Linked DNA regions of Homo sapiens. The protein of the gene in region 1 purifies or fractionates together with the protein of each later gene. This does not show direct contact. Each region holds a gene or a part of one and is shown in the gene's direction. Other genes may lie near its edges. The genes, in order: PDGFB, CEBPZ, MRPS31, RBM28, BRIX1, NSA2 and RPF2.

Region 1 (4,276 bases):
CACAGGCTTAGAGTGGCTCAGCCATCTGCCCAAGTCCCATGGCTAATGACAGCCAGGACTTGAAACCTGAACCCTGGGGTTGAAGGGCGTGAGAAAGAGCAGTCCCGGAGGCACCCGCTGAGCTCCCCTGCCAAGTGGGGGGACTCTGGACAGGCCTACGCTCCTGACCCAGGTTTCGTCTCCTCCCAGGTTCCCTGACCATTGCTGAGCCGGCCATGATCGCCGAGTGCAAGACGCGCACCGAGGTGTTCGAGATCTCCCGGCGCCTCATAGACCGCACCAACGCCAACTTCCTGGTGTGGCCGCCCTGTGTGGAGGTGCAGCGCTGCTCCGGCTGCTGCAACAACCGCAACGTGCAGTGCCGCCCCACCCAGGTGCAGCTGCGACCTGTCCAGGTGCGTAGGCTCCGCGGCCCCCCGAGGCTGGTCCCGGTGGTGGGTGGAGACCACCCTTCTGGGGCTCATACCTGACCAGGCTTCCTTGACTGGGCAGAGTGGTGTGTCGAAGGACATTCCTGATTTGTTCCTGGGCTCTGTCCAGAGAGGCCCACTCTTGGGAAGCTCTTCCTAGGCAGGTGGACTGAGGCCGACCATGAGTCCTCTGAGGTGGCTCAGGCCACTGTAGCCAAAAGCCACAGACAGACCCCCCGGGCTGGGCGAGGTGTGGAGCCAACGTGAAGTAGGGATGTCACCTCCTTTACAAGGACAAAATCGCAAAACGTCCCTTGAAGAGCCGTATCCGCAAACATTTATCTGACACTCAGAATGTTTTGGGGAGCTACTCAGGTTCCCCCAAAGCTCTCCCTATTCAGGGCTGTCTTGAGAAAGGCTCAGATGGGTGGCCCTGCATCTTTGACACCTGCTTGTCTCTCTTTGACAAGCTGTGTCTTTAATAAAGAGAGTGCAGAGAGGCCCACCAGGTGATAGACACTGCGGAGCTGGGGCAGGTCCCCTGACAACAGTGGAATGCTGATCCTGCTTTTCTTCGGAGGGACGGGGGATACATACACTGGACTCAGGGAAAATTCTAGAGTAGAGGCTGTCTCAGGGAGCACCCTGGTCTCACCCTAGTCGGGGCAGAGTCAGAGAAGCTGCTGCTTCTGCTTCTTGTGGAAAGATTCCTGCACGCCCCAGGCCAGCCTCGCCCACAGGCTGGGCAGTGCGCATTTCTCTAGCTCAGCACCGGCCCTTGCCCGATGCTCTGCCTGCTTAGCCGCACTTCCTTCTCCTGCCACCAGCCCGTGGCCTCTCCTCCTGCCCACCTTCCCTCCCTGGCTTGGGCCCCACGCCTGAGACTACGAATGTCACTCCACCCCACTGCCCACTCTCGTGGTATCTCCTGTCCTCGATGCTTCCAGCTCTATGGATGGACACCTGACATCTGACCTCCCCGTTCCCACCTCCCTCCTAGATGAAGCCTCCCCCCACTTCCTTCCAGACAACCATCTCCCGCCTCTGCCGCAGCCCTGACCTTGGCTGGCGCTCCGGGAATGAGGATACCGCAGGCCCCAGCTCAACCCGGAAATGCCTTTCTGGCTGTCCCTCTCTGGGGGCACTGAGGGGGGCCCCAGGTCGGGAGGGCTTGTTTTGATGGAAAAGCTACGAGAAGGGCAGAGGTCAAGGTCCTGCTATTGTTTGGGCCAAAGCTTTTGCCCCACAGCCTGCTCTCCGGGCTTTCGAGGAAAGATTGCTGCAGGGGACACCGGGGTGGGAAGCGCAAGCCATTCGGGCTTCCCGGGCTCCTGGCTGTGTGGTCTCTACAGAGGCATTTTGTGGCTCTGTCCTCCAGGTGAGAAAGATCGAGATTGTGCGGAAGAAGCCAATCTTTAAGAAGGCCACGGTGACGCTGGAAGACCACCTGGCATGCAAGTGTGAGACAGTGGCAGCTGCACGGCCTGTGACCCGAAGCCCGGGGGGTTCCCAGGAGCAGCGAGGTAACCACCTTTCCAGGCTCAGCCCTCAGCCCCCTTCCCCTGCAGCAGCTGGGGGCAGGGGCCGGTCTTAAAAATGGAAATGGGATCAGGCCCGCCCCCGGTTAAATTCACGGGAGGCTTTCTTTTCATCTTGCTGAGACACAAGCCAGGTTCCTCCCTGGCCTGAGAGCCCTACATGAGGATTAGCCCCTGGCTGGCTCTCTGGTCTCTGCCAACCAGTACCCTTCACCTGTGCCACCCCCGCCGGGCAGGCCTCTTTCAGTAACTAATGGAGTTTCTGCCTCAAGGCTTTAGCACACACTGCTGTGGCTGAAGAACACTTCTCCCAGCTCTCCACAAGCCTAGCTCCTTCTCTTCATTAGAGTCTCAGCTCAGAAGTCACCTCCTCCTAGAAGTCTGCCCTGACCACCCCATCCAGAGCAGCGCCATTTCCAGTCTTGCTACCATAGCCCCCTGCTTTGTTGGATGTGGGGATGGGATGGTGGAAGGAATCTGGGCCTGGATGAGAGAAAGCTCCGCGCACATCAACTTCCGATAGTGAGCAGCTTGTCCTGGGGATGAGAAATCAAACGAATTTCTCGTATCCTTGAGCGGGGGAACCAGGACCAGTGGGGAGAAGCCACTGGAGAGAGATTTCAGCTCCATATGCAGAACAGCTAGCTGGTGATCAGTCAGGGGTGCAAGGTGGAATTGGCAGCATTGTGAGGCATCTCTACAAAAAATACAAAAATTAGCCAGGCATAGCGGCACACGCCTGTAGTCTCAGCTACTTAGGAGGCTGAGGTGGGAGGATCGCTTGAGGCTGGGATGTCGAGGCTACAGTGAGCCGTGATGGCACCACTGCACTCCAGCCTGGGCAACAGAGCAAGACCCTGCCTCAAAAAAAAAATGATTAATACGATTAGATGAGCGTTTAAAAAAATCACGTAAGTGATAGTTCTTTTTCAGTAACTTTCTATTGTTAGGGACAGGACAATCTTTTCATTCTCATTTCTTATTAACAAGACCCTGAAGACGGAGCCATTTCTTGGCATCTGTGTCTTATTCCCAGAGCTGAGCTGAGTCGCTGGATGCCATGGAAAGGCTGATCATATGACAGCTTCAAACTGACATGTTGTAAATTATTGAGTTAATATGGAGGGTGATTTCTCTATTAAGGGAAAATTATATATATCTATATATATATATATTTTTTTTGAGGCAGTCTCACCCTGTCACGCAGTCTGGAGTACAGTGGCACAATCTTGGCTCACTGCAACCTCTACCTCCTGGGTTCAAGCAATTCTCCCGCCTTAGCCTCCCGAGTAGCTGGAATTACAGACACATGCCACTACACCCGGCTAATTTTTGTATTTTTAGTAGAAACGGGGTTTCACCATGTTGGCCAGGCTGGTCTTGAACTCCTGACCTCAAGTGATCCACCTGCCTCGGCCTCCCAAAGTGCTGGGATTACAGGCGTGAGCCACCACGCCCAGCCTCTTTCTTTTTTAAGAGACAGGGTCTCTCTCCATCACCCAGGCTGGAGTGCAATGGCATGATCATAGCTCACTGCAGCCTTGAACTCCTTCCTGGGCTCAAGCGAGCCTCCCTCCTCAGCCTCCTGAGTAGCTGGGATTACAGGCATGTGCCACCACGTCCAGCTAATATTTTAAGTTTTTGTAGAGATGAGGTCTTGATTCGTTGCTCAGGCTGGTCTCTAACTCCTGGGTTCAAGTGATCCTCCCACCTCAGCCTCCCAAGGTGCTGGGATTACAGGCATTGAGCCACCACGCCTGGCCTTCTTTATGTTTAGAGTGAGTTACTTCATGTATTTGTTTGACGTAATTTTCTAAACCAGTTTCTTGGGAGGCGCATTATACCAGTGAAACGTAGATGATGTAAAGTCCCATCATTTTAGTTCCGGTATTTTGGTTGAGTATGACGGTGTTTCTGTCACCTGTCCATGGGCCTGGCTAAGGCTTGGTAGTGTGGCTCTCTGTGATAATGTGGTCAGTGTCAGACCTCCTGGGCTCAGATCTGCGTGTTGTCACTTGAGCTGTGTGGTGACCTTGTGCTTGCCTGGGCTTGGTATAGCCCAGTGTCCTGCTGATGGCCCAGGCTCTGGGGAAGAAACTCCCTGGGCCCTTCAGTGGCCCTCCTGGTGTCTTCTGTCTGAGGGGATCTGAAGCCCATTCAAGTCCCTGAACTGCTAGAAAATCTGCGCAATTGCAGAGATGGGAGAGCTGCCTCGTGGGAGCTGGTGTCTGTAAGGTGGGAGGTCAGGTGTCAGATCCCGGTAGGCTGGGAGAGCTCAAAAGGCTCCCAGGAAATGGCTGGCCTTGAGCTCAGCAGACACAGCTGTCC
Region 2 (4,276 bases), on another chromosome or scaffold:
GGATTACAGGAGCATGCCACCATGCCCAGCTAATTTTTTTATTTTTAGCACAGACAGTGTTTTGCCATGTTGTCCAGGCTGGTCTCGAACTCCTGACTTCAGGTGATCCACCTACCTCAGCCTCCCAAAGTGCTGGGATTACAGGCATGAGCCACTGTGCCACCTGAATGTTACAAATTCTTGAGTGAATAAATGATTGATTCAAAGTAGACCAAATAATTTTAAGTAGCAAGTACCAAAAGCCAATTGAATATGGGTTTCAGATTCCATATTACAACTAATCTTTGGTTTTGGTATAGTACTAAAGAAGAAAATTCACAGCTATGTGAAAGACTATTTTCTACACATGAGGCCAGATTGTATGTTTCAACGTGGAATACAGAAGCAGATGAAATAATCCACTCTCTTCTGTTAAGCCAGACATTAAAGAGATTTGCAAAACTGTAAAGTAATACTACTCGCTATATATTTCGTCCTGAAGCATAATTATTTTTCTTTTTTTCTTTTTTCTTTTTTTTTTTGAGGCAGAGTCTTGCTCTGTCGCCCAGGCTGGAGTGCGGTGGTGCGATCTCAGCTCACTGCAAGCTCCGCCTCCCGGGTTCACACCATCCTCCTGCCTCAGCCTCCCGAGTAGCTGAGACTACAGGCGCACACCGCCACGCCTGGCTAATTTTTTGTATTTTTAGTAGAGACGGGGTTTCACCGTGTTAGCCAGGATGGTCTCGATCTCCTGACCTCGTGATCCGCCCGCCTCGGCCTCCCAAAATGCTGGGATTACAGGCATGAGCCACCTCGCCTGGCTGCATAATTATTTTTCATAAATATGCTACTTACTAGTATGTAGTAGCTTTATGGTTTTTGTTTTTGTTTTTTGTTTTTTTTTTTTGAGACAGAGTCTTGCTCTGTTGCCTAGGCCAGAGTGCAGTGGCGCGATCTCGGCTCACTCCAAGTTCCGCCTCCCAGGTTCACACCATTCTCCTGCCTCAGCCTCCCGAGTAGCTGGGACTACAGGCACCCGCCACCACGCCCGGCTAATTTTTTGTATTTTTAGTAGAGATGGGGTTTCACCATGTTAGCCAGGATGGTCTCGATCTCCTGACCTCGTGATCCGCCCACCTCAGCCTCCCAAGGTGCTGGGATTACAGGCATGAGCCACCGCGCCTGGCCGCTTTATTGTTATTTTTAATGGACCTATAAGTATTTACAATTTTTCTGTTTATTTTTATAACATAGGTGTCTGTAGATATAAACCTGTTGAATAGAAACTGATGGAATTTTTGGTTTTTAAGTGTAGGAAATGGTCCTGAGACCAATATGTTTTGAGAATCACTTTTTTAATGTATTGGCTTAAATTTCAAATTTTTGCATTTTCATTTTTGTTGTTGTTGAAATAGGGTCTCACTCTGTCACCCAGGCTGGAGTGCAGTGGTGCCATGTCAGCTCACTGCAGCCTCGACCTCCTGGGCCCAGGCAGTCCTCCCACTTTAGCCTCCTGAGTAGCTGGGAGTACAGGCACGCGCGCACCATCACACCCTGACTATTTTTGTACTTTTTGTAGACATGGGGTTTCGCCATATTGCCCAGGCCAGTCTCAACTTCTGGGCTCAAGCAATCTGCCTGCCTGAGCCTCCCAAAGTGCTGGAATTACAGGTGTGAGCCACCACACCCAGCCCGATTTTCTTAAATAAGCTATAAATGTACTAAGAGTCGACCTTAGAAATATTGATATTATTCACATTTTTCTTTTTAGTTATCTGTGCATTTTCATCCCTCCGTGGCCCTTTTTGCAAAGACCATCCTTCAGGTGAGTCTAAAATAAATCCAAAGATGAGAAATAAGAAAAAAAGTATCATTTTAGATAATCAATAATTGGTCATACAGTGTTTTCTCTAACAGAGAGAATCTTGTACATTTTACTGCTCGTATAAAGAAGCAGTGACTTGTTTCATACAGAGTAGCAGATAACTTTTCCCACTCTGAGATGAGTGGAAGCAATAAGACATTGAAAGCCACGCAGTTATTTATTTATTACCTTCTAGCTCCTCTCCTGGAGAAATACTGCCTCACTTTCCCATTTGCTGTGTTTGCCACTTCAGGGTTTGGTTCCTGATTAATGGTTAGATGGCCTGCATTATTAATATTAGTCTATCCATCAAATCAACATTACATCCTAGAATATGTATGTATATGTATCTGTGTGTTTAATTTTTTAAGTATAATGTGCATGAGAGAGATATTTGAAGAGTCATTTATTGCATATTTGTATCTTCAATACAGTGTAATAGAAATTATCTTTTTCTTCCTTTTTCTTACTTGGATTCATAGACATAATTTGAATTAAGTTTTTAAATCCCCGCTCCACTTTTCAGGGAAACTATATTCAGTATTCAGGGGACCCACTGCAGGATTTCACTCTAATGAGATTTTTGGATCGATTTGTATACCGAAATCCAAAGCCCCATAAAGGCAAAGGTATGCTTCTATTTAGTGAATTATTTGGCTTTCATTTTTAATACATAATAAACAATATGAGCTTATAACTAGGTTTTGCATTATACTGTCATAATTTTACATTTCAGAAAACACAGATAGTGTTGTGATGCAGCCGAAAAGAAAACATTTTATTAAGGATATTCGTCATCTTCCTGGTAAGTATAAACCTTAGACAGTTGAAACTGAAAAGACAATATAAGACAAAGATGCATAAATTGTATTATTCTTTGTTCTAATTTATCAGAATAAAACCTGAGCATCAAAGACATTATCCATCTTTTTTCCCAAGAATAGGTATTCTTAAATCTACTGTATCTGACTGGGCCTTTTTTTTTTTTTTTTTAACTTTATTACAGCAAATTTGAAACATATCCAAAATAAACAAAATAGTATGATGAACCCCCTCCCCATTACCATCACCCAGCTTTGACAGTTGTCACCATTTTATCATCCGTAGCTTCATCCACAACCCCTATGTATATAATTATTATTGCTTACAATTCAGACCATCTTAAAGCTCTCTAATATCAGCTTAGCAGCACAAAAACCCACAGCTGGTTTTGTCACAGAGCATCATTTTAAACTTAATAACCTACTTCTATATTTGCTAGCCATCTTCTGGATCTGAGTCTGTTGTTGTATTCAAAGCAGACATTTCTTTGCATACCAGATCTCATCTCCCTTTTGTTCAGAGACCAGGATTAAATTAGACCTTATAGATCATTTAATTTCCAGTGACTTACTTCACAGAGGTCCAGAGATGTAAAAGGACTTACCCACAGTTAGTAAGTTAGAATTAAAAGCCAAATCTCCTTTTACTCAGGATGAGTCAGCAATTTTTATTCTGAAGAGGTAAAACTGATTTCTTGTAGTTCCTTATTTCTTAGTTTTCCTCAGTATAAAGGAAAACTCTGTTAACTTCCTGTTTATTCCCAGAATGGCACGCATTAATGGCAAGCTTGTCATTTTTTGAGCTGAAAATGACAAGTTTAAAGTGATTATTTATTAAAATAACTCTTTGAATTTTTTATTTCTCTTGAAAGTTGGGTCCTGGATGCAAATGAAGAACAGTAAGAGAACCCTGTTGTTTCACTGTAACGGCACTGACAGCTATGTACTGCCTACTTTATGCTGTAGCCAGTGAAGTTTCAAATGTTGGGGGGGTCTTCACACAGACTTTTTCAGAGATTGTCCCTTGCACTCCAGAGTCCCTTCTGTCTACCTTCCCACACAATTCTGAGATTTTTAGAATTACAGATTATGCTGTATTTTGTCTTAAGAGCTTGAGTAACATAAAGGGGATTGCTATATGAAGTTAAAATGTTTAAATTTATTTTTGTAGTGAACAGTAAGGAGTTCCTTGCAAAAGAAGAAAGCCAAATACCAGTGGATGAAGTGTTTTTCCACAGGTACTATACATAATATAGTTTCATTTGGGGAAACTGCTAAAATTTAAATTTTTAGATTTCATAAAATGCTTCATTTTATGAAATAATCTACTTCAATAATCTACTACTGTGTGTAAATAGACCATGGAACATTAGTGGGAGAAGTGGCCTTAGTTTTAAATGCTTCATTTTATGAAATCTAATCAGCATATTTTGAAAAGATCAAAGGATATGTCTGTGTTTGTTAAGAAAATTTACAAATCCGTCATTTTGCTAATCTTAATATATCTTAGTAAAACTAAAGTAAATTTGGGAGTTTTGTTAATTTAGCATATAAATTTTGTTTTATGCTTCTTTTTGGAATTTAGCCTTTAATTTCCTTTTATAATAATTTT
Region 3 (4,276 bases), on another chromosome or scaffold:
ATTAAAGACTTCCAGGGGATTTAGCGGGGTGATGCCTGTTGGAGGTCAGTGCCCTCCTAGTTGGGGGGTGGGGGCTAAGCTTAAAGTTTGAGAAGCAGTGCTGTAGCACGTCAGCTTCATAAAGGCAGGGACCATGAAATTCTTATTTACTAATATATTGTCAGTACCTAGTATAGTGCCCACCACAGAGTAGATATTCACTATATTTAGCAAATAATTTTTTAATATACCCTCTTACTGAAACTAACACATTCAGAGTTTTGAAAATTCTTCAGTAGTCAAATACCAAAACAAATTTTTAACCCCACAGAATAAAATTGGATATTTGGATTACTTAGAATTAGGAAATCTTTTTGCATGAGTCTAATATAGATGTAATCATTTGTGTTGTTCTTTTTCATAAATGTATCTAGTGAAGAAAGCACAAATGACATTTCTAGCCATTGATTATTCTCTTTTCTGTTCCATTCTAGCTTTCCTTACAAATGGTTATGGGTTAAGTAGCATGTAGCTCGATGACAATGTTGATCAGATTAGATAACACCCACTCAGAAAGTTTTTTTGAAATAATCTTTTTTATTGATAGAAATTTATTTTTGTATTGTTTAATGATAACTTTTAAAGAGGTATTGTGTTAAGAGCAAGGACTTGCAGTCAGTCACATTTGGGTTTGAGAATAATAAATTGTCATTTATTAACCATGTCAGTGTTTTTCTACCCAACCCTGGGGTAAATGGAGGGAGGGAACAGACTTGGGAGCACCAGCACCCCCAGACCTCCCCTGGCCACCCCAAGGACCAAGTGATCAATATCTCAGCACACCTCTACTTATTTGTGGCACACAGTGTGTTTTAGTTCTTAGTGAGCTGTGAGCTACATGACTTTGGGACTTCTCTGATTTTCAGTTTCCTTATCTGCAAAATAGAGACCTTAGGGAGTTAATGTGGGTATGAGAAATGTAAATAAAGTATATTTCACAAGATGAGACATGTAGTATATGCTAATAAATGGTAAGTTGCTGCTGTTATGGTTGTTAACAATAATTATAAAAAGAGACCAGCCTGGCCAACATGGGGAAACCCCATCTTTGCTAAAAATACAAAATTAGCTGGGCATGGTGGCACATGCCTACAATCCTAGCTGCTCGGGAGGTTGAGGCAGGAGAATTGCTTGAACCCTGGAGGCGGGGTTTGCGGTGAGCCAAGATCGCGCCATTGCACTCCAGCCTGGGCAACAAGAGCGAAACTCCGTCTCAAAAAAAAAAAAGCAACGGAAAGGGCTTGAATTGAAAAAAAATCTTAGATACATAGTTTTTTACTTTATTGTAAGTAAGTTTTTTACTTTATTGTAGACTGCATTGTATTTTTCATTTTTTTCTTTAATGCATCTTTCCAGGACAAAAAATAACATCCAAAGATATTTTGGCACTAACAGTGTGATCTGTAGCAAGAAAGATAAGCAGTCTGTTCGAACTGAGGAGACTTCCAAGGAGACTTCAGAGAGCCAAGACAGTGAAAAGGAAAATACGAAAAAAGACTTGTTAGGCATTATTAAGGGCATGAAAGTTGAATTAAGCACAGTAAATGTACGAACAACAAAGCCCCCCAAAAGAAGACCACTTAAAAGTTTGGAAGCTACACTTGGCAGGCTTCGAAGAGCTACAGAATATGCTCCAAAGAAGAGGTAAATTTAATTGTAATTCAGATGTTGTTTGAAACTCCAGTAAGCTTTTTGTTTTGGTAAAAAATATTTTTAATACAAGTACTTGGGAAATGTTGAATTAATGAAGAATAAATATCAGCTTGTAAACACAGGGACTCTAATAATTACTCGAGGCTGGGCATGGTGGCTCACACCTGTAATCCCAGCACTTTGGGAGGACGAGGCGGGCGGATCACTTGAGGTCAGGAGTTTGGAGACCAGCCTGGCCAACATGGTGAAACCCCGTCTCTACTAAAACTACAAAAGTCAGCTGGGCATGGTGGTGCGTGCTTGTAATCCCAGCAACTTGGGAGGCTGAGGCAGGAGGACTGTTTGAACCCAGGAGGCAGAGGTTGCAGTGAGCCAAGAATTGTGCCACTGCACTCCAGCCTGGGGGATCAAGCGAGACTCTGTCTCAAACAACAACAACAACAAAATAATAATTACTTGAGAAATGCTGTTATTGTATTATATTTAAATAACAAGAGGATATCTGTACACAATCCAGAGAAAGGAAAGGAGAAATGATCTCATTGAGAATTTCACACACTTACATATTTATCAGTGTTATTAACTGCCATGTAATTGCCTCTTTAAGCTGTTAATTAACAATATCATTTACATCTTGATTTGAAGGTAGCTTAATGTCTGTAAAGGACTTGCTTATTTAAAATTTTCCATTTTAAAGATTTCTGGAATAAAGTTTTAGCATGTTGATTACAATTGCTTTATATGACTTCCCTTGATCAATACCTATCAGTGCTTTCAGCTTTCTTGGTAGTTTCCTCAGAGTATTAAAATTATTTGTGTTTGTCAAAAGAGTATTATATTTAATTCTAAATGCAATCAGTGATACTTGGCATTGTGTGGTAGGTTAAATGGCAGTATTTTTTTTAGTGCTATGTAATGATGTATTTCAATGATGTCATTAATTCAAGTAGTAAGCTATGTGGCTTTAGGATACTCATCACTGACTTCTGTTACCAGAACAAACAGATTTTAATAGTCTTCTGTTTCCCAAACTGATTTAACATTTTAATGGAACTTCTTGGTTTCTACGTTATATCAAAAATACCTCTAGAAAGTATGATTGGGTAGTAGAGTAAGCTAATTCAGACTATCAGTACCCATAATAGGTACTTCCTCCTCCTCCTCCTGCTTTTAGAAACAAAATGGTTATATATAAGTATATGGAAATAAATAATACAAACATATATAAATACTTTTCAAGAATGGCATTTTTAAAGCTCCTAGACCTGTTTATGATCCATCATGCTCTTTATTATAATTATAATTGAATTAACGATTACAGAAATGGTAAAGTGAGTTGAATGCTTTGGAAAGAGTCAGTAAAGGTCATTTAAAATTTTTCTTTCCAATTAGGTATGAGTGAGGCAAACATACATGTGTGGGAAGATCATACACTTAGATTGCTTTGTAAGCTTTCTTACATTCTTGCTCCACTTTTCCACTTAAACTGAAATTGAAAATACTGGAGGATGGGTGTGATGTATATAAAAGATGTGTCTTAGAACCTCTATTAGTGGTCCTATGTTCAAAGAAGAGGCTTTGGTCCCACATCAAAAGACTGGTGAATGAGGTACATTTGTTTTGAGTTTTAAAAAGGTGTCTTTTAATGATTTTTTCCTCCCCTCCCTCTTTTTCAAGGACTCCAAGGTGCACGGGATTAGGTTAGTCATGATCTTTGCTTCATGAGACACTGTCATCATTGCTTCATACATAGACTGCTTTTCTTTGTTTGTATTAAATATTGAACCTTCATTGATATGGTTACCATGGCTACACTACCTCCCAAACTTAGTGGCATAAAACATTCATTCATTATGCTCACAGATTCTGTGGGTTAGCGATTTGACTAGAACACAGTGGGGGAAGGCCAATCTGTGCTCTGTGATGTCTGGGGCCTCAGTTGGAAGACTTAGAAGTCTGAGGCTGGAATTGTCTGAAGTTTGCTCACTCATAGGTCTGGCAGTTGCTGCTGGCTGTCAGCTGAGACCTTATTAGCAGAAACACCTACATGTGGCTTTCTTTGTGGGCTGGGCTTTATCCCTGCATGGTGGCTGGGTTCCAGGGCGGGTGTCTCAAGAGAAAGTGAGCCAAGAGAAAGTTGTATTTTCTTTTTAATGACCTAGCCTTGTAATAAGATTGGACATTACCGTGTTTACCCTTGTTCCACATTGATTTTCCTGGGATATTTGTTTTTATCACAACCACTCCTGAGAAACAATCTTGACAAAGATATAATGTCATTGATAGGAATGGAGCAATATACAGTTGGTCCTCTGTATGTGCAGGTTCTGTATCCACAGATTCAACCAATTTCTGATTGAAAATATTAAAAAAAAATACAATATAACTACTTACATAATTAGGTATTATAAGTAATCTAGAGATAATTTAAAAGTATTCGGAGGATGTGCATTACTTATATGCAGGTACTCTGCCATTTTATGTAAGGGGCTTGTGCATCCATCCTGGTGGGGGCCAGAGCTGTTCCTGGAAACAATGCCTGTATCCCACGGCCCCACCTCCCCCCAACCCCTGCAGATATGAA
Region 4 (4,276 bases), on another chromosome or scaffold:
CAGGGCCTAGCTGGGCTTGTGAAGGACAACAGAGTCATTTCCTAAGGACCCCAAAAGACAGCATGAAGGAAAAAATAATAATAAACTGCTGTTCACAGTGCCTTGAGTGTACCACCGTACTTTCTGCTATGCCTTGTCCATTCCAATCTGGACAGTCTCTGTGCCCCTCCTTTCCACTCAAGTGTTATCCAGCACTCAAGTTCTGGCTCAAGGCCCAACATCTCCGTGGGGACCTCAGCCATCCCAGGGCATTGTGACCCCTTCCTCTAAGTCCCCGGCACACTCGCTGATTGGTACCCTCTCATTCGACAAAGCATATGCCATTGTGGCTTACTTGTCATTTCTTTAGGTCTTGCCTTCCCAAGTAGATCATGAGCCACTATAAGAACTAGCTCCCATAGTCCCAGCCCCTGGGCCTGGTACATGGCAATGCTTAGTGATTGGTGATTGAGGATAATGGTGGTAAAGGATGTACCAGACAGTCATCTCCTGAAGAGATGCCGAACAACCTGTCCTTGTTTTATGTATTTTCTCTTTCTTTCCTGTCCAGTTTTATTCCTCTCATAGTAACTGCTAAAAAAATATCAGTTCCTGTCACTCTTCCACCCCTTTTCTCCCTCTCCCCTGCATTGTGGTCTGGGCCTTGGTCCACTAGCAACTCCCCTTAGGTGTTGCTTAATCTGCCTCATGGCCAAAGCCAATCCCATTCCTGTCCCCCGCTACCCAAGGGACTCCCAGTCTGTATGCACAAGGCGGGATGTGAAGTCTGGATGTGCAAGAAACCCAGCTGTAAGAAACAGCTTCCCTCGGCTTGGCATGGTGGCTCATGCCTATATTCCCAGCACTTTGAGAGGTCAAAGTGGGAGAATCACTTGAGCCCAGGAGTTCAGGACTAGCCTGGGCAACATAGCAAGATCCCACCTCTACAAAAAAAGAAAAAATTCAGAGTCTCAAATGTCCCTTCATCTCCTTACTCTCGACCTGTCTCCCTAGTTCTCTGCCGCCTTTTCCTCTCCCCTGGATCTGACACTCAATTGTCTGCATGCACTTTTCAACTGAAAGAGACTCCAATGCCATCCTTCTGATGAAATTTTTGCTTTGGATACTACTGCAGAAAAAATGCTATCTTGTATTCTGGTCCATGGTGGGGAAGACCCTGTCGTAGAACCTGGCAACTCAAGTGGAGGGAGGGGCCAGAACATTGTTCTTATGCTATTTACAGTGAGACAACAGGATTGATGCAGAACTTTCTTTTTTTTTTTTTTTTTTTGAGACAGAGTTTCATTCTTGTTGCCCAGGGCTGGAGTGCAGTGGCATGATCTCAGCTCACTGCAACCTCCACCCCCCAGGTTCAAGCAGTTCTTCCTCAGCCTCCGGAGTAGCTGGGATTACAGGCGTGCGCCACCACGCCCCACTAATTTTTGTATTTTTGGTAGAGACGGGGTTTCACCAGTGTTGGCCAGGCTGGTCTCGAACTCCTGACCTCAGGTGATCCACCCACCTCGGCCTCCCAAAGTGCTGGGATTACAGGCATGAACCACCGTGCCCGGCCGTGATGCGCAACTTTCTAATAACATACTTTTGAAAGTGCCCAGACATACATCCCTCCTCTGGTACCACAGTGGCCATCAGTTGCCAGAGAACATGAAATTATCCAGCCCTCAGCTCTGCAGCAGGATTCTGAGGAGTAAAGCAGGCCTGTAAAGTACTCTAAAGTACTTCAGAGAGGTAATGCCACAAAGCGAAGAACACCTCTTGGAGGCAGAGCCCCTCAGCCCTATCCAGGCCAGCAGTGTCCACTTGAAATCTGAAAGCAGCCTCCCTCACCAAACCAGCAAGATGGAAAACCTCCCTGGGTTGGCAAGTGGCCCTGGGAAGTACATGCCCCATCTCTGTCAGGATAGCAGTGGAGAGGTTTCGTGCCAGTGCCAGCTCCACCCACCCAGATGGTACTCAAGACTCCAAGCCTGTCAATGGGGTGGAAACTTTCTGGCATTTTCTGTCAGAAGGGTGAGTTAGCACTGAACCATCTCATGTGTCTTTTCACTGAGTAACAGCCCATATCCATTCCATGAAATGAGTGACTGCTTTGTTGAATCAGATAGTAACAAACATTTATTTGTAGTCTGGTTGTGTCATATCATGGTTGAATTGCAAACAGGTTGGATAGAAGAGTCAGCAAAAATCAACAAAAGCATTCTGTAAAAAACTTTTCTAGAATTACAATAAATGGCATTGTATATTTTATTTATAAATTATGTGCTGCACATCATTTTTATCAATGAAATTTATAATAAATTTCTGTACATATATACATTTTTATCCCAGAGAGCCAGTTGTTAAGCATTTACCAGCAATAAATGCTTTTTGTTTCCTGCTTACACAGGTTCTGGGAGTGGCCAGCCCACTCTTTGAGATGTCCCCACTTGCTTTTTTAGTTGTCCAAGTAGTGTTCTGCCCAGCCTTCCCGACTCTCTTTCTTATCCTTCCCTCGAAACTATTCTGTTCCTTATGCTTAAATACTTTCCAGTCATGGGAGCTTTGCTGTAGGCCCTTGGCCTTTCATGGGTAGCTTCTGATACGTGCATGGGTGTTAATAGAGGAAGTTGACCCCGCCTGGGAAGAATAATGACCTATGGAGACCTGGCCCTTTCTCTTATGGCTTCTTAAAGTGACAGCTGTTATGGGAAGTTCAGGCATCTTGACGTGGAAAATACATTGTTCATTTTCTTTTAATTTTTTTTCCCCTAACCACTATACCAACAGGGATGGAAAGATACTTTTAGTTGGAAGGAATTTGGAGCCCTTAAACGACACCTGGAGCAGCTGCCTGTGGGTGGGGCTTTGCACAGTCTCATCCTGGCAAGGGAGGACGAGCCAAGGACCAGTTTTGCAGAATTGTCATCATGAGGCCCTGGTTGTGTGCTGGGCTGGGGCATTGCCCCTTTCCAGGAGGCCAGGCCAAGCAGGGCTGCCTGGCTTAGGCTTTTGCATCTTCAGCATCCTTTCACGTCTCTTATCTCAGGTGACCTTCACAGCAAGCCTGGTGAAGGTTATTGAGAAGCAGATGTCACCACCTAGTCTTAGAGCTGATGAAAGCAGGATGTGGGGAAGTCCAGACCCTCTCCTGAAACCCCTTGGCCACCTGAGCTAGTACCAGAGCAAGGTCCCACTTGGCCGTGAGTGCTGTCTCTAGGGCCTATTTCAGGAACTGTCTCATATATAAGAACAGAACACTTTTTGCCAGCTATACCAAATGTTTTTGGGATTAAAAAAATAGTTTCTCTTTTCCAAATTAGGTGGTAAGAAAAGGAAGGGCATTTTCATTCTCACATTCTTTGAATGTTGAAACGTTTTAAAAACTTCCAGCTGGGCTTGGTGGCTCATACCTGTAACCCCAGCACTATGGGAGGCTGAGATGGGAGGATCCCTTGAGGCCAGGAGTTCAGGACCAGCCTGGGCAACATAGTAAAACTGCCCAAAATTTGAAAATTAGCCTTGTGTGGTGGTGTGCACTGTAGTCCCAGCTGCTCGGGAGGCTGGGGCAGGAGGATTGCTTGAGCCCAGGAGTTTGAGGCTGCAGTGAGCTATGGTTGTACCACTGTACTCCAACCTGGGCAACAGCGTGATACCCTGTCTAAAAAAATAATAAAAATAAAAAAGGATTAAACCCTTTACTTGACCAGCTTCTTTTCCTGCTACCCCTGGACTAACTAATCATTACATATTTTTGTAGTTGTTTTTTCTTTCTTTCTCTCTCCTGATCTACCACAAGCCAAATGTACTCATATACATACTAATAGGTGAAAAAAGAGAGTCTGAGGAGTGAATACATTTATTTTGTGATTTCCTAGGCAGTAGCTAGGACTCCCTTAGAGGTTGCTAATAGGGAAAGGGTGCGCTGGCTCTACTCAGTTTTATAACTGCTTTTCCCCGAATTCTGCAGACATCTTCATTCCCCTGGAGGTCAGATAATGGCTATTTATTTTCCATAGCCATGAAAATCTCTGGGGAGAGCTGTGGCAATTTGACGAGAGCTATTAAAGGGACATTAGGATTGAAGTAGCTGCTCAGGCAGTCACATACCCTCGATCCTCATCTGCAGGGACAGCTGCCAGAACGAATGAGCCCAGCTCTCCTGCCCGCAGCCAGCCGCGTGTGGGTGCAACTGGCGACCAGCCACTGGAGTGAGTCCCAGGGAAGGGGACAGGTTCTTAGAATCACCATTTGTCTCTGCTCTCTCCCTCTCTGCAATAGGACGGGCACTCTAAACTCA
Region 5 (4,276 bases), on another chromosome or scaffold:
ACAAGAGCGAAACTGCATCGCAAAAAAAAAAAAAAAAAAAAGGAGGGAGGTTTCCAGTAATCAGAAGTGAGACCATTTTAGATGCTAGGCCCAAAAATATGATAGATAATTTCACCCAAGATATGGGCAGAGCATCTAGTTTACCTTGGGTAGAATACCTAAGAGGAACTTTAAAGGTTCCTTCTGTGAATAAATACATGTTTAGGCCTTTGTAGCCTATTAGCCTGGTTAGGTATTTTTGAGATAATCTGGATGATATTAATCACATATAATTACTTTAGTTCTCATTTATATTATCTACTTCATTTTCCTATACTTTGCTTCCTTTAGGTTTGTGAAATGAAGAACTGTAATAAATGCATCTATTTTGAAGCTAAGAAAAAACAGGATCTCTATATGTGGTAAGAGAATGTATTAAGATTTTGGTTAAACTCATTTAAGTGGATTTGTTCTTTGTACCTTTTATGTTATAGACTCCTAGTGTTTCATGTTAAGGGTTGAGAATGAAGCAAACTTTTGATTTCACGAAACTTGATACCTTTAAAGAAAATTAAATGTATAAATATTATAAGCATATTATTTATGGTGAATAGGTGGTAAGCATTGACTACATTTGCTAATTAGTTGAAAAAGCTTACTCCATATCTTTCAGGCTTTCAAATTCACCTCACGGACCATCTGCTAAATTCCTTGTTCAAAATAGTAAGTTGACTCAATAAATTTTTTTAGATGAGGAAATTAAAAGTAATCTTTTGAAATAGTTGTGCAAAAGTTACAACTATTTTTGTTTTTGTTGTAATTTTTCTAGTTCATACCCTCGCTGAACTGAAGATGACTGGAAACTGTTTGAAAGGTTCTCGGCCCCTTTTGTCTTTTGACCCTGTAAGTTTCTCATTCAGTGTATGAGGTCTAATTTTCTTATCTGGCATGGTTGTTTTTAGTAGATATAGTTGTGTTATTCAATTTAGTTTCACCCCCACCTTGGTTTTATGGATTATCAATTCTTTCAGGTACATTTATAATGAGGTTATAGCCAAGTTATAGAAACAAATGAGCAAACAGTTTTAAACAAGGCAGTCTACTGTTAAATAATATGCTTACCTTATTTTTATAGGCTTTTGATGAATTACCACATTATGCTTTGTTAAAAGAACTCTTAATTCAGGTAAATATCTTTAAAATTAGCTATCCAAAATATACATGATATATCTTGGAATAAGGAACTAACATACACTTTTTTAACTAGATCTTTAGTACACCACGGTATCATCCCAAAAGCCAACCATTTGTGGACCACGTGTTTACTTTCACCATTTTGGATAATAGGATATGGTTTCGGAACTTTCAGGTAAGCTTTACTTGATTTTTAATTATACCTTTTTTTTAATTGAGTTTATTTATTTATGTTTTGAGACAGAGTCTCGCTCTTGTTGCCCAGGCTGGACTGCAGTGGCACAATCTTGGCTCACTGCAACCTCCACCTCCCGGGTTCAAGCTTCTGCTCCCTCAGTCTCCTGAGTAGCTGGGATTACAAGCACCCATCATCACGCCTGGCTAATTTTTGTAGTTTTAGTAGAGACGGGGTTTCGCCATGTTGGCCAGGCTGGTCTCAAACTCCTGACCTCAGGCCATCTGCCCGCCTTGGCCTCCCAAAGTGCTGGGATTCCAGGCGTGAGCCACTACACCCGGCCTAATTTTTTTTTTTAGAGATAGAGTGTCGCAGTGTTGCCTAGGTTGGCCTTGAACCTCCTGGCCTCAAATCATTCCTCCTCAGCATCTTGAGTAGGTGGGATTGCAGTTGTGAGCCACTGTGCCTGGTCAATTTTTAGTTAAACTTTTAGATAAGGATATACAGGGTTTGCATACACAAAAAATGCAAATAATTCTTTTGTTTTAAATAGCTTCCTTTTCCCTAAAGAGATTGCTGCAAGTAACTATGTACTGTCTTATATCTTAAGTGAGCTCTACCTACTTCTATTCATGACTGTTAGTTGATACAGAGTATGGATTTCCTAATAAGCCATTATATATTTAACTTTATAGAAAGGGAATAACTTGAAGATCCATGAGATACTTGGGTTCCTAATTTGTAGAAAGTGCTGTAAAGGATACAGTAAAATAGAAGTTTCTCTCTCAAAGCTTAGAAGTTTCTCTCTCAAAGCACCTCAAAGGTTAAGACCTAGCAAAATGTAATTGCTCTAGAAGGCATTCAATGGCAGCGGTTAGATGATGAGTCACACAGTGACTCATTCAGGAGAAAAGAGGAGGTGACTCTAGAAATCTTGAAGCAGGAGTTTGGCACGATAAGTGCAGAAAGATGAAGAGGTGGAAGAGAACAGCAAGAACAAAATTTTAGACAGTATATGACATAAACTGAGCTCTTTTCTGCATATTTTATATTGGATACCTGGCATGTGAGTTGAACACATCATCCTAACCTCTGAGGGTAGACATGCCTGAACTAATAGATAACATAAATATTTGTTGTTCGGAAGTTGCCTTTTAATTCCATAATCAGTAGCTATTAAATAAATTTGACTACATATCCTTTTAATCTAACTTGAATTAGATTTATAAAAACAATTTAGGGATTGATTTAAGTTTCAAGAGTTCCCCCATAATGTGCTTTAATACATTTTGTTAATAGTGGTTACTGTTTTAAAATCCTGTTTAACCAGTTTTTCAAGGATATATGCATTGTGACAAGCAAGATGTGAACCAAAATCTAATTACTCAATTTTAAAAGAACTCACTGAAAAAACATTTTTCCATGACAACTTCCTATAAGTACTAATAGATTTCAGAAAATATTGATGATTTGCCATTTACCAAGTTTCACCCCCACCTTGATTTTATGGATTATCAATTATTTCAGGCACATTTATAATGAGGTTATAGCCAGTATACCTTTTGGGAATAACGTAACCAAACCAAAATGAAATGTTTCCTTTTTATTAAAGATCATAGAAGAAGATGCTGCTCTTGTAGAAATAGGACCTCGTTTTGTCTTAAATCTCATAAAGATTTTCCAGGGAAGTTTTGGAGGACCAACTTTATATGAAAATCCTCACTACCAGTCACCAAACATGGTAAGCGGTTGTGTCATTCAGTAGTCTTCAATGTACCAGAACCCTTTGGCCAAAATGATTCTGTGAAGTAATTGCTGTTTTATTACCTGTGAAACTGAATTTGGTTTTTGCTGCATAGAAACTTGGAAATTACTCCCTTTTTTCATGACACTGGCTGAAAGGATATATGGTTCATAACTGAAAGTCTTTGCCTTATATAAAATGTTTATTTTTATTTCAAAAGCATCTAATCTTTTTTTTTTTTTTTTAGCATCGGCGTGTCATAAGATCCATCACAGCTGCAAAATACAGAGAGAAACAGCAAGTGAAAGATGTGCAAAAACTGAGAAAGAAAGAGCCGAAGACTCTTCTTCCACATGATCCCACTGCAGATGTTTTTGTAACACCAGCTGAGGAGAAACCAATAGAAATACAGTGGGTAAAACCAGAGCCAAAAGTTGATTTGAAAGCAAGAAAGAAACGGATTTACAAAAGGCAAAGAAAAATGAAACAGAGGATGGACAGTGGGAAAACAAAATAAGTCAATGGAAACCTGATTTGTTTTTCAGTTACTTTATATTTATTTTGTATTCAATGTGTAAATACTTTTATTATCTAATACTATCTTACGTCTAATTAGTGTAGCATTTACAAGAAAGAAAAATTAAGATCTTAAAATCAGTGATTATCTTTTTCTAAATAAAATATCACCAGAATTCATCAGTTAATTTCTGATTTCTTTTTGAAGTTTGTGTTGCTAAAAATGTAGCACACTTAATGTAGCCTGTTCTCTTGGGTTGGAATTTTTGGTTTAGCAAAGCTGAAATTCAGACATTTATTAGGTCATATTATTTGTAAAAGCATTCAACACTTCAAGAGCATCGGTTGTGGATGGTAAAGTAGGAGTAGACTGGTAGAAAGGAAGGCATCTCACTGAAGTTTACTCAGTCATCAGTTAATGAAGCCATGGAAGAACCAACCCCTGATCTGTCACTTCAAAAAAGAGTATATTAAAATGTTGAGGTTTTGAGAATCAAATGCATTAATGGCTGTGTTGAAAGCACTTTGTAAATTTTTTATTTTATTATATTTTATTTGTGAGACGGAGTTTCGCTCTTGTTGCCCAGGCTGGAGTGCAATGGCGCGATCTCGGTTCACCGCAACCTCCACCTCCCTGGTTCAAGTGATTCTCCTGCCTCAGCCTCCCG
Region 6 (4,276 bases), on another chromosome or scaffold:
CTATGCAGTCATAAAGAAAAATACAAATGCTTCTTATTTGTGCTGCCCTGTAGTGCCAAACTTGGTTAAAAAGTAGAATGGTGGAAAACTCCCTGAGTTGTCACAAAAAATGTGGCTTTTTAAAACACCTGTAAATAGATTAGCAGAAATCCAGATAAAAGAATATGCAGTATTTATATTTAAAGAATTATTTTTACTGCCTTACACTATTTCAGTTTTTTCATAGAATTTGCACTCAAGGGAGGCATAAAACATCTGGTGAGGATTTTGTCTTGCTAGTGATCTACAGATCCATCTCGGGAAGAAATACAGAGACATATTAAGAGGTGGAAACACTCTTCCAGTATTATGCTATTAAACATTAGTAAACACATATACTGCTTATAGAAGTCACTATCGGCTGGGCACCGTGACTCACGCCTGTAATCCCAGCACTTTGGGAAGCCAAGGCAGGTGGATCACCTGAGGTCAGGAGTTCAAGACCAGCCTGACCAATGTGGTGAAACCCCACCTCTACTAAAAATACAAAAATTAGCTGGGTGTGGTGGTGTGTGTCTGTAGTCCCAGCTACTCGGGAGGCTAAGACAGGAGAATTGCTTGTACCCAGGAGGCGGAGGCTGCACAGTGAGCCAAGATTGTACCACTGCACTCCAGCCTGAGCAACAGAGCGAGACTCCATCTAAAAAAAAAAAAAAAAAAAACCACCACATTACAGGTGGTATTTTCTCACCCATAACACAGCATTAAGATTTTTAGCTTAAGCCAACCATTTATTTAACATACCCATGATATATAAACTTGTTCTGTTTAATTTGCAGCTTATGAGACAATACAGACCTCTAGAAGACGGTTGAGCCAAAAATGTGTTGATGGTCAAGCAAAAAAAATAGATCTATTACTTTGTACAACTAAAACATATTTGACTTATTCTCATTGTCCTTTAATAACAATATAAACTTTTAACTGTGGCATATTTTTAGGGAAAATGGGAAGTCCCTCTGCCTAAAGTACGTGCCCAGGGAGAAACAGAAGTATTAAAAGTTATTCGAACAGGAAAGAGAAAGAAGAAGGCATGGAAGAGAATGGTTACTAAAGTGTGCTTTGTTGGAGATGGCTTTACAAGAAAACCACCTAAATATGAAAGATTCATCAGGCCAATGGTAAGTCCTTGGAAGAGTGTAATGACCGAAATGTTAGTTGACTTTATTAAATCGGATAAAGAACATTATCATTTCCTGAAATTCTTTAAATTGATGTGGAACAGGTTGAAAGATATTTTTATGCAATTTTTGTTATTTTATTGACAGAAGTTATTTAGTACTTTTTCCACTAGTCAAAAATCTTTAGCCCAGTGCGGTGGCTCACACCTGTAATCCCAGCACTTTGGGAGGTTGAGGTGGGTGGATCACCTGAAGTTAGGAGTTCAAGACCAGCCTGGCCAATGTAGTGAAACCCTATCTGTACTAAAAAATACAAAAAATAAGCTGGGCGTGGTGGCGGGCGCCTGTAATCCCAGCTACTAGGGAGGCTGAGGCAGGAGAATCGCTTGAACCTGGGAGGCGGAGGTTGCAGTGAGCTGAGATCACGCCATTGCACTCCAGCCTGGGCAAGAAGAGCAAAAATCCGTCTCAAAAAAAAAAAAAATCTTTTCAGCTTCGTGAGAGATTTGAAAAAGTAGTATCATAAGACATTGTCAGTGAATTCTGACTTTTAAACATGACATATTAGAATCTTCATTTTCCACAGTCATATTTTCCTCATTAAACTAGTGATCTACAATATGCCTGATATTGTCTAGGTCTCAAAACACTTCTTGTCTTTGACAGCAGTTCGAAAACTTGAGTAGGACTGTTTTATAAGAGTCAATTCCAGTTTGATAAGGAAAGTATCTAAATGCTTTTGAAAATCATTGAAAAGCCGGGCGCGGTGGCTCACGCCTGTAATCCCAGCACTTTGGGAGGCCGATGCAGGCAGATCACGAGGTCAGGTGATCAAGACCATCCTGGCTAACACTGTGAAACCCCATCTCTACTAAAAAAAAAAAATACAAGAAATTAGCCGGGCATGGTGGCGGGCGCCTGTAGTCCCAGCTGCCTGGGAGGCTGAGGCAGGAGAATGGCGTGAATCTGGGAGGCAGAGCTTGCAGTGAGTGGAGATCATGCCACTGCACTCCAGCCTGGGGGACAGAGCAAGATTCTGTCTCAAAAAAAAAAAAAAAAGAAAAAAAGAAAAAGAAAATCTTTGAAAAAAGGAAGATAATTTAATATAGCTTAATTTCTGTTGAAGGCAGCAATAGTAATGTGACCCCAAACTTCCCCACCCCTGGGGAGAAACATAGTTGAAGATATATTTTTGCAAAATCCCTTCAAAGAGACTGAACTATTCTCCCAGTTAGATACACAGCCTCAAAAAAACAAAGTATCAGAGAGAGGAAAGTTGCAACATGCCATAATCCTAGTGTTCAACCTGAGTAATTTTTTTTTTTTTTTTTTGGGACGGAGTCTCCCTCTGTATCCCAGGCGGGAGTGCAGTGGCACGATCTCGGCTCACTGCAAGCTCCGCCTCCCGGGTTCTCGCCATTCTCCTGCCTCAGCCTCCCGAGTAGCTGGGACTATAGGTGCCCGCTACCACGCCCGGCTAATTTTTTTGTATTTTTTTGTAGAGACGGGGTTTCACCGTGTTAGCCAGGATGGTCTCGATCTCCGTGATCCGCCCGCCTTAGCCTCCCAAAGTGTTGGAATTACAGGCATGAGCCACCGTGCCCGGCCAACGTGAGTAATTTTTAATAGATTAAAATATTGGCAAATAGCCTGTTTCTGTAAATAAAATTTTAATGGAACACAGTCATGCCTGTTCATTTACATATTGCATAACCCCTACCCCTAGAATTGAGCAGTTGCAACAGAGGCCATATGGCCTGACAAAGCCTAAAGTGTTTACCTATTGGGTTCTTTACACAAAATGTTTGCCCACCCCGGATTATATCATGGACTCGACTTGTTTTGGTTTCATATTCATAGTCTGAATATATTTTGGTAGCCTTAACAGTTCTACAGGGAGAGAATATACAAGTCAGGCTATTCTAGGTTTTCTGTAGTTTCACAGATTTGTCATTATAATCAGATGGCATCCTGAATGGTGTCAGTTTCTTACAAGCTTGATTAATGAGTCTGTTACTAAGAAACTGATTTAGTGATTTTTTCCCCCCATCCCCATGCACACAAAAATGAAGACTGCAAAATGTTGTGACGTTTAAAGTACTACACCCTAAAAGACCTTATTAGGTGACTGGGTGACTCCATAACCAGTTTCTGTAACAAAGACTCCTCTGGGTCTCCTCCAGTCTCATATTGCCATCAACCTAAAGAAAGCTGACAGTCCACTCCTTTTTTCATCATGGAAGGTAGCCGAGTTATATAAAGACTTGGAATCAGGATATTAAGGTTTGAGTCTGTTTACCACTCACCATTTAATCTGGAAACAAGTCATTTAACCTGCTGATCCTTGTTACATCATTTGAAAACAGAGGAGAGGGGATGTGTTTGTTGTGAGGTTATTGTGTTTAAGTGAGCCAGTTGTGAGCTAGCATAGTGGCCTGGTATATATAAAGTCCTTAGTAAGTCTAAGTGTAGATGACTAGACAGTAAAAATCTGGGTATGTTGCTAGGTAGCTATTACAGGGTGAAAAAAAAAAAAACTTTTCAGAGGCTAGCTGTGGTGGCCTGTAATCCCAGCACTTTGGGAGGCTGAGGTGGGTGGATACGTTGAGAGCCCAGGAGTCCAAGACCAGCAGGCAACATGGCGAAACCCCATCTCTACCAAAAAAAAAAAAAAAAAAAATAAGCTAGGCATGGTGGTGCGTGCCTGTAGTCCCAGCTACTCAGGAGCCTGAGGTGGGAGGATGTCTTGAGCCCAAGAAGTCCAAGCTGCAGTGAGCCAAGATCACGCCACTGCACTCTGGCGTGGGCAACTGGGCAAGACCCTGTCTCAAAAGAAAAAGAAATTCTTAAGTATTTGTGTGGGTGTTTTCCCCACATATTTATACTGTAACCATCAGCTTTTTACTCTGTAAAACATATTTTGTTAGCTTCTTTAAGATGACATTATTCAACCATAGTTTTTTGGAGATGGTTGAAAAAGATAAGCGAAAACGACCACTACTCATCACTGTTAACATTTTGGACGTAAACATTCTTATGTTGTGTTTGACTTACTAGGGCTTGCGTTTCAAGAAAGCCCATGTAACACATCCTGAACTGAAAGCCACCTTTTGCCT
Region 7 (4,276 bases), on another chromosome or scaffold:
CACCTGTAATCCCAGCACTTTGGGAGCCGAGGTGAGCGGATCACCTGAGGTCAGTAGTTCGAGAATAGCCTGACCAACATGGCGAAACCCTGTCTCTGCTAAAAATACAAAAATTACCCAGGCGTGGTGGTGTGTGCCTGTAATTCTAGCTACTCGGGAGGCTGAGGCAGGAGAATTGCTTGAACTCAGGAGGTGGATGTTGCAGTGAGCCAAGATTGTGCCATCACTCTCCAGCCTGGGTGACAGAGTGAGACTCCATCTCAAAAACAAACAAAAAAAAACAAACAAAAAAAAGAAAGTGAGATTTTTTTTAAGGGTGGAACCCTAAGTGACAAATATGTTTTTAAGAATTTTCATATTAGTTAAGTCATGGCTTTGCAATGTGAGGAAAATGTTTAAATAGTTATGAATTGTGCTTTTCTGAACAGAAAGCCCAAAACGAAAAGAGCCAAGAGATTCCTTGAGAAGAGAGAACCGAAACTCAATGAAAATATTAAAAATGCCATGCTGATTAAAGGGGGAAATGCAAATGCAACAGTGACAAAAGTACTTAAAGATGTGGTAAGTATATATACTTAATCTTTAAAAGGTATTGAAGTCATTTTAGAATTTTCAGCATGCTAGGATGGGCTGTCGGAGAAATACGTAGATAAGCTTGCCTTACCATAAGAACTACTAGTCTTAGAGAAGAGCTAAAGTTGGGGGTTTATTTACCTTGCGTGGCACCTTTTCTTAAAGCAACTAGTTCTCTTAGTAAATTTTATTATTGTTTTTTAGGAGCACAGGTGGGTCTGGTAGAGTGAAGGTCTCCCTTAGTAAATTTAAACTGTTTTCAATTACTAGAATTTGGCTTACTTACATTTTAGGAAAAAATCTAATTTGTAAAGAGAAGTAACTGCATATTGCTGTATATTTAGTCATTCAACAACACCGGTTACTGTGCCTCTGCTGGGAATTAATAGGTGAGACACAGTTCTTTCAGTGAGCTTAGAGAGATAGACATGTAAAAAGTTCTTACACTGTGCTGTGCTGGAGGCATGGACAGGGTAGGGTGGGAAACAGTTAAAATCACATAGGGGAGGCCAGGCACGGTGGTTCACGCCTGTAATCCCAGCACTTTGGGAGGCCGAGGCAGGAGGATCACGAAGTCAGAAGTTCGAGACCAGCCTGGCCAACATGGTGAAACCCCGTCTCTACTAAAAGTACAAAAATTAGCCGGGTGTGGTGGCGGGCGCCTGTAGTCCCAGTTGCTCGGGAGGCTGAGGCAGGAGAATCGCCTGAACCTGGGAGGTGGAGGTCACAGTCAGTCGAGATTGTGCCACTGCTCCAGCCTGAGTGACAGAGAGAGACTCCATTTCAAAAAAAAAAAAAAAAAATCACATAGGGGGACCCCCACACAGGGTAGGTTCCCCCAGAGATAACACTGCAGCTTCATTTTGAAGGAGAAGTTGGTGCAAGAAGTGGGAGAGAAAGAGAAGATCCTCTGAGGCTGAGAAAGAAGTTTGTGCAAAAGGGAGTATGAAGGAGCATTGATGCATTTGGAGAACTGTAAATAATTGGGCATGGCCAAAGGAGAGTGGGCTAGATGAGGCTAGAAGAGGAGGCATGGGTCACATAGTAACATGAAATTTGAATTCTAATCTGAAAGCTCCGTGTAATCATTGAAAGATATTAAGCAAGAGATACCATCAGTCCTTTTAATTGGCTTGATTAGAGAGGGTTGAGAGCAAATGTAGGAAACTAAGCCATTGCTGCCAGCTAGGTGAAGAGCATCTGGAGTCCAGTGGTGGCAATGAAAATGAGAAATGACCAGAAAGAATAGATGTTGAGGAAAGAAGAGTTGGGAACTAGTGAAAAGTATGACTTCCCAGGTGTTTGGCTTGAGTGCCTGATGGGCAATAATGCCAATTAGAAAATGTATCAAGCGGAGCAGGTTTGGAGGGAAAGGTGAAAGGTTCGGTTTGGGACATGTAATTTAAGTAATGAAAATAAAAGCTTTGTTTTTTCTACCTCTGTAGCCTAGTGTACAGCCCAGTGTCTGGACATAGTAGGTACTCAATATATATGTAATCTATGAAAGAAAGGCATAGTATGGGCCAGGCACAGTGGCTCACACCTGTAATCCCAGCACTTTGGGAGGCCGAGGTGGGCGGATCACGGGGTCAGGAGTTCGAGACCAGCCTGGCTAACACGGTGAAATCCTGTCTCTACTAAAAATGCAAAAATTAGCCAGCCATGGTGGTGGGCGCCTGTAATCCCAGCTACTAGGGAGGCTGAGGCCGGAAAATCTGCTTGGACCTGGGAGATGGAGGTTGGAGTGAGCTGAGACCACGCCATTGCACTTACTCCAGCCTGGGTAACAGAGCAAGACTCCAACTAAAAAAAAAAAAAAGACATAGTATGTGGAGATATCTAGTAGGTTATTTGACTAATTAGGCCTTGAGTACAGCCAATAGATCTTTGAATTAAATCAATTAAGTAATCGAATACATTTTTGTTGTTGTTATTGAGGTGGAGTCTCACGCTGTTGCCCAGGCTGAAGTGCAGTGGTGCCATCTTGGCTTACTGCAACCTCTGACTCCCGGGTTCAGGCGATTCTCCTGCCTCTAGCCTCCCAAGTAGCTGGGAGCCACCACACCCAGCTAATTTCTGTGTTCTTTTAGTAGAGACAGGGTTTCACCATGTTGGCCAGGCTGGTCACAAACTCCTGACCTGACATGATCTGTCCGCCTCGGCCTCCCAAAGTGCTGAGATTACAGGAGTGAGCCACCATGCCTGGCTTTGAATATATTTTAAACTTGACCAAACTCTATGCCTGATAAGCATAGTCAATTCAGATGTCTGAATGCCTTATATAGGCCCATCCCTTTTTTGAAATGTTTGTCTGAATTTCATTGTGCTAACGGGAAACTGCCCCTCTCCTTCTAGTATCCATCAGCACAATGACCCTGCATATTTAAGTAAGCTTTAAAAGCAGCACAATATTACAGATTACTACAATAATTAAAATTCATCATGATGACTCTGAGTCATCAAGAAGAGGTGGCAATGTTTATTACACGGAAACAGGGAAATAGTTGGCCAAGAATCATCAAAAGTTTTAGTACTTAAAAAGGTAGATTTTACTGTTGCATTTTCTTTGTTCACCAACTCTGATAGTTGATGAATGATTATTATACCTTATTTTTCATTGTTTCCCTCATTTACCCATTTCTCTAATGCAAGGTAGTACCTGATGACATCTTTGTTATTCTCTATGGTAGAGCAGTACTGGCCATACAAGTAATAAATGATTATAGGCCAGGTGTGGTGGCTCACACCTGTAATCCCAGCACTTTGGGAGGCTGAGGTGGGAGGATCACTTAAGCCTAGGATGACAGCCTGGACAACAAAGTGAGACCCCATCTCTATAAATTAAATTTAAAAAAATAATAAAATACAGCCTGGACAACATGGTGAAACCCCATCTCCACTCAAAATACAAAAATTAGCTGGGCGTGGTGCATGTGTCTGTACTTGGGAGGCTGAGATGGGAGGATCACCTGAGCCCTGGAGTTTCAGGCTGCAGTAAGCTTTAATCACGCCATTGCACTCCAGCCTGGGCAACAGAGTGAGACCCTGTCTCAAAAATAAATAAATAAAATAAAATGAATGATTATTTGTGGATAGGTAGAACTAGGAAAAAAATGAAGAACATTGAATAATAGGCATTTTTTAAAGAGCTGTGTTTAACCTCTGGCTAGTATTCTAATTGTCATCATTATTACTGTTTCTAAGTTTTCTGATCTCCACGCAACATTATTTCAATCTGTCAGCCTTTCGTGATAGAATTTATTTTTTCTGTTTTTGTCTACTACTTTTTTTTTTTTTTTTTCTGAGACAGGGTCTCACTCTATCACCAGAGCTGGAGTGCAGTGGTGCAATCACGGTTCACCACAGCCTCGAATTCCTGAGCTCGGGTGATCCTCCCGCCTTAGCCTCCCAAGTAGCTGGGACTGCAGGCATGCACCACTATGCCTGGCTAATTTTTGCAGTTTTTTGTAGAGACAGGGTTTTGCCATGTTGCCCAGGCTGGTCTCGAACTCCTGGGCTTGAGTGATCTGCCTTGTCCTCCCAAAGTGTTGGGATTACAGGCGTGAGCCACTGCACCTGGAATTGTTTCCCTAGAGAGAGACTGGACTAAGTCGAGTTTAAAGAAATGAAGGAAATTGTTTAAGTTGGATAGACTATTGACAGGGCATAGAAACTTTTAAATAGGAAAGTCTAGTCCAAGAAT

Evidence for each region.
Region 2: the proteins of PDGFB (region 1) and CEBPZ purify together in Homo sapiens (affinity purification with mass spectrometry; 2 studies listed by BioGRID and IntAct, with this or other methods). This does not show direct contact.
Region 3: the proteins of PDGFB (region 1) and MRPS31 purify together in Homo sapiens (affinity purification with mass spectrometry; 2 studies listed by BioGRID and IntAct, with this or other methods). This does not show direct contact.
Region 4: the proteins of PDGFB (region 1) and RBM28 purify together in Homo sapiens (affinity purification with mass spectrometry; 2 studies listed by BioGRID and IntAct, with this or other methods). This does not show direct contact.
Region 5: the proteins of PDGFB (region 1) and BRIX1 purify together in Homo sapiens (affinity purification with mass spectrometry; 2 studies listed by BioGRID and IntAct, with this or other methods). This does not show direct contact.
Region 6: the proteins of PDGFB (region 1) and NSA2 purify together in Homo sapiens (affinity purification with mass spectrometry; 2 studies listed by BioGRID and IntAct, with this or other methods). This does not show direct contact.
Region 7: the proteins of PDGFB (region 1) and RPF2 purify together in Homo sapiens (affinity purification with mass spectrometry; 2 studies listed by BioGRID and IntAct, with this or other methods). This does not show direct contact.

What each region holds. Positions count from the first base shown.
Region 1 is NC_000022.11:39,227,741-39,232,016, reverse strand, and holds part of PDGFB (platelet-derived growth factor subunit B isoform 1 preproprotein), read left to right. Parts: intron 1-189; coding exon 190-395; intron 396-1,788; coding exon 1,789-1,933; intron 1,934-4,276. UniProt on the Homo sapiens protein: Growth factor that plays an essential role in the regulation of embryonic development, cell proliferation, cell migration, survival and chemotaxis. Potent mitogen for cells of mesenchymal origin.
Region 2 is NC_000002.12:37,214,512-37,218,787, reverse strand, and holds part of CEBPZ (CCAAT/enhancer-binding protein zeta), read left to right. Parts: intron 1-1,750; coding exon 1,751-1,804; intron 1,805-2,369; coding exon 2,370-2,472; intron 2,473-2,579; coding exon 2,580-2,648; exon of another isoform or gene 2,649-3,467; intron 3,468-3,835; coding exon 3,836-3,902; intron 3,903-4,276. UniProt on the Homo sapiens protein: Stimulates transcription from the HSP70 promoter.
Region 3 is NC_000013.11:40,764,153-40,768,428, reverse strand, and holds part of MRPS31 (small ribosomal subunit protein mS31), read left to right. Parts: intron 1-1,395; coding exon 1,396-1,683; intron 1,684-4,276.
Region 4 is NC_000007.14:128,302,155-128,306,430, reverse strand, and holds part of RBM28 (RNA-binding protein 28), read left to right. Parts: 3' UTR 1-4,276. UniProt on the Homo sapiens protein: Nucleolar component of the spliceosomal ribonucleoprotein complexes.
Region 5 is NC_000005.10:34,921,887-34,926,162, forward strand, and holds the end of BRIX1 (ribosome biogenesis protein BRX1 homolog), read left to right. Parts: intron 1-330; coding exon 331-401; intron 402-652; coding exon 653-702; intron 703-808; coding exon 809-882; intron 883-1,114; coding exon 1,115-1,165; intron 1,166-1,246; coding exon 1,247-1,348; intron 1,349-2,960; coding exon 2,961-3,089; intron 3,090-3,339; coding exon 3,340-3,609; 3' UTR 3,610-4,110; downstream 4,111-4,276. UniProt on the Homo sapiens protein: Required for biogenesis of the 60S ribosomal subunit.
Region 6 is NC_000005.10:74,769,651-74,773,926, forward strand, and holds part of NSA2 (ribosome biogenesis protein NSA2 homolog), read left to right. Parts: intron 1-980; coding exon 981-1,160; intron 1,161-2,662; coding exon of another isoform or gene 2,663-2,722; exon of another isoform or gene 2,723-2,843; intron 2,844-4,217; coding exon 4,218-4,276. UniProt on the Homo sapiens protein: Involved in the biogenesis of the 60S ribosomal subunit. May play a part in the quality control of pre-60S particles.
Region 7 is NC_000006.12:110,984,578-110,988,853, forward strand, and holds part of RPF2 (ribosome production factor 2 homolog), read left to right. Parts: intron 1-428; coding exon 429-561; intron 562-4,276. UniProt on the Homo sapiens protein: Involved in ribosomal large subunit assembly. May regulate the localization of the 5S RNP/5S ribonucleoprotein particle to the nucleolus.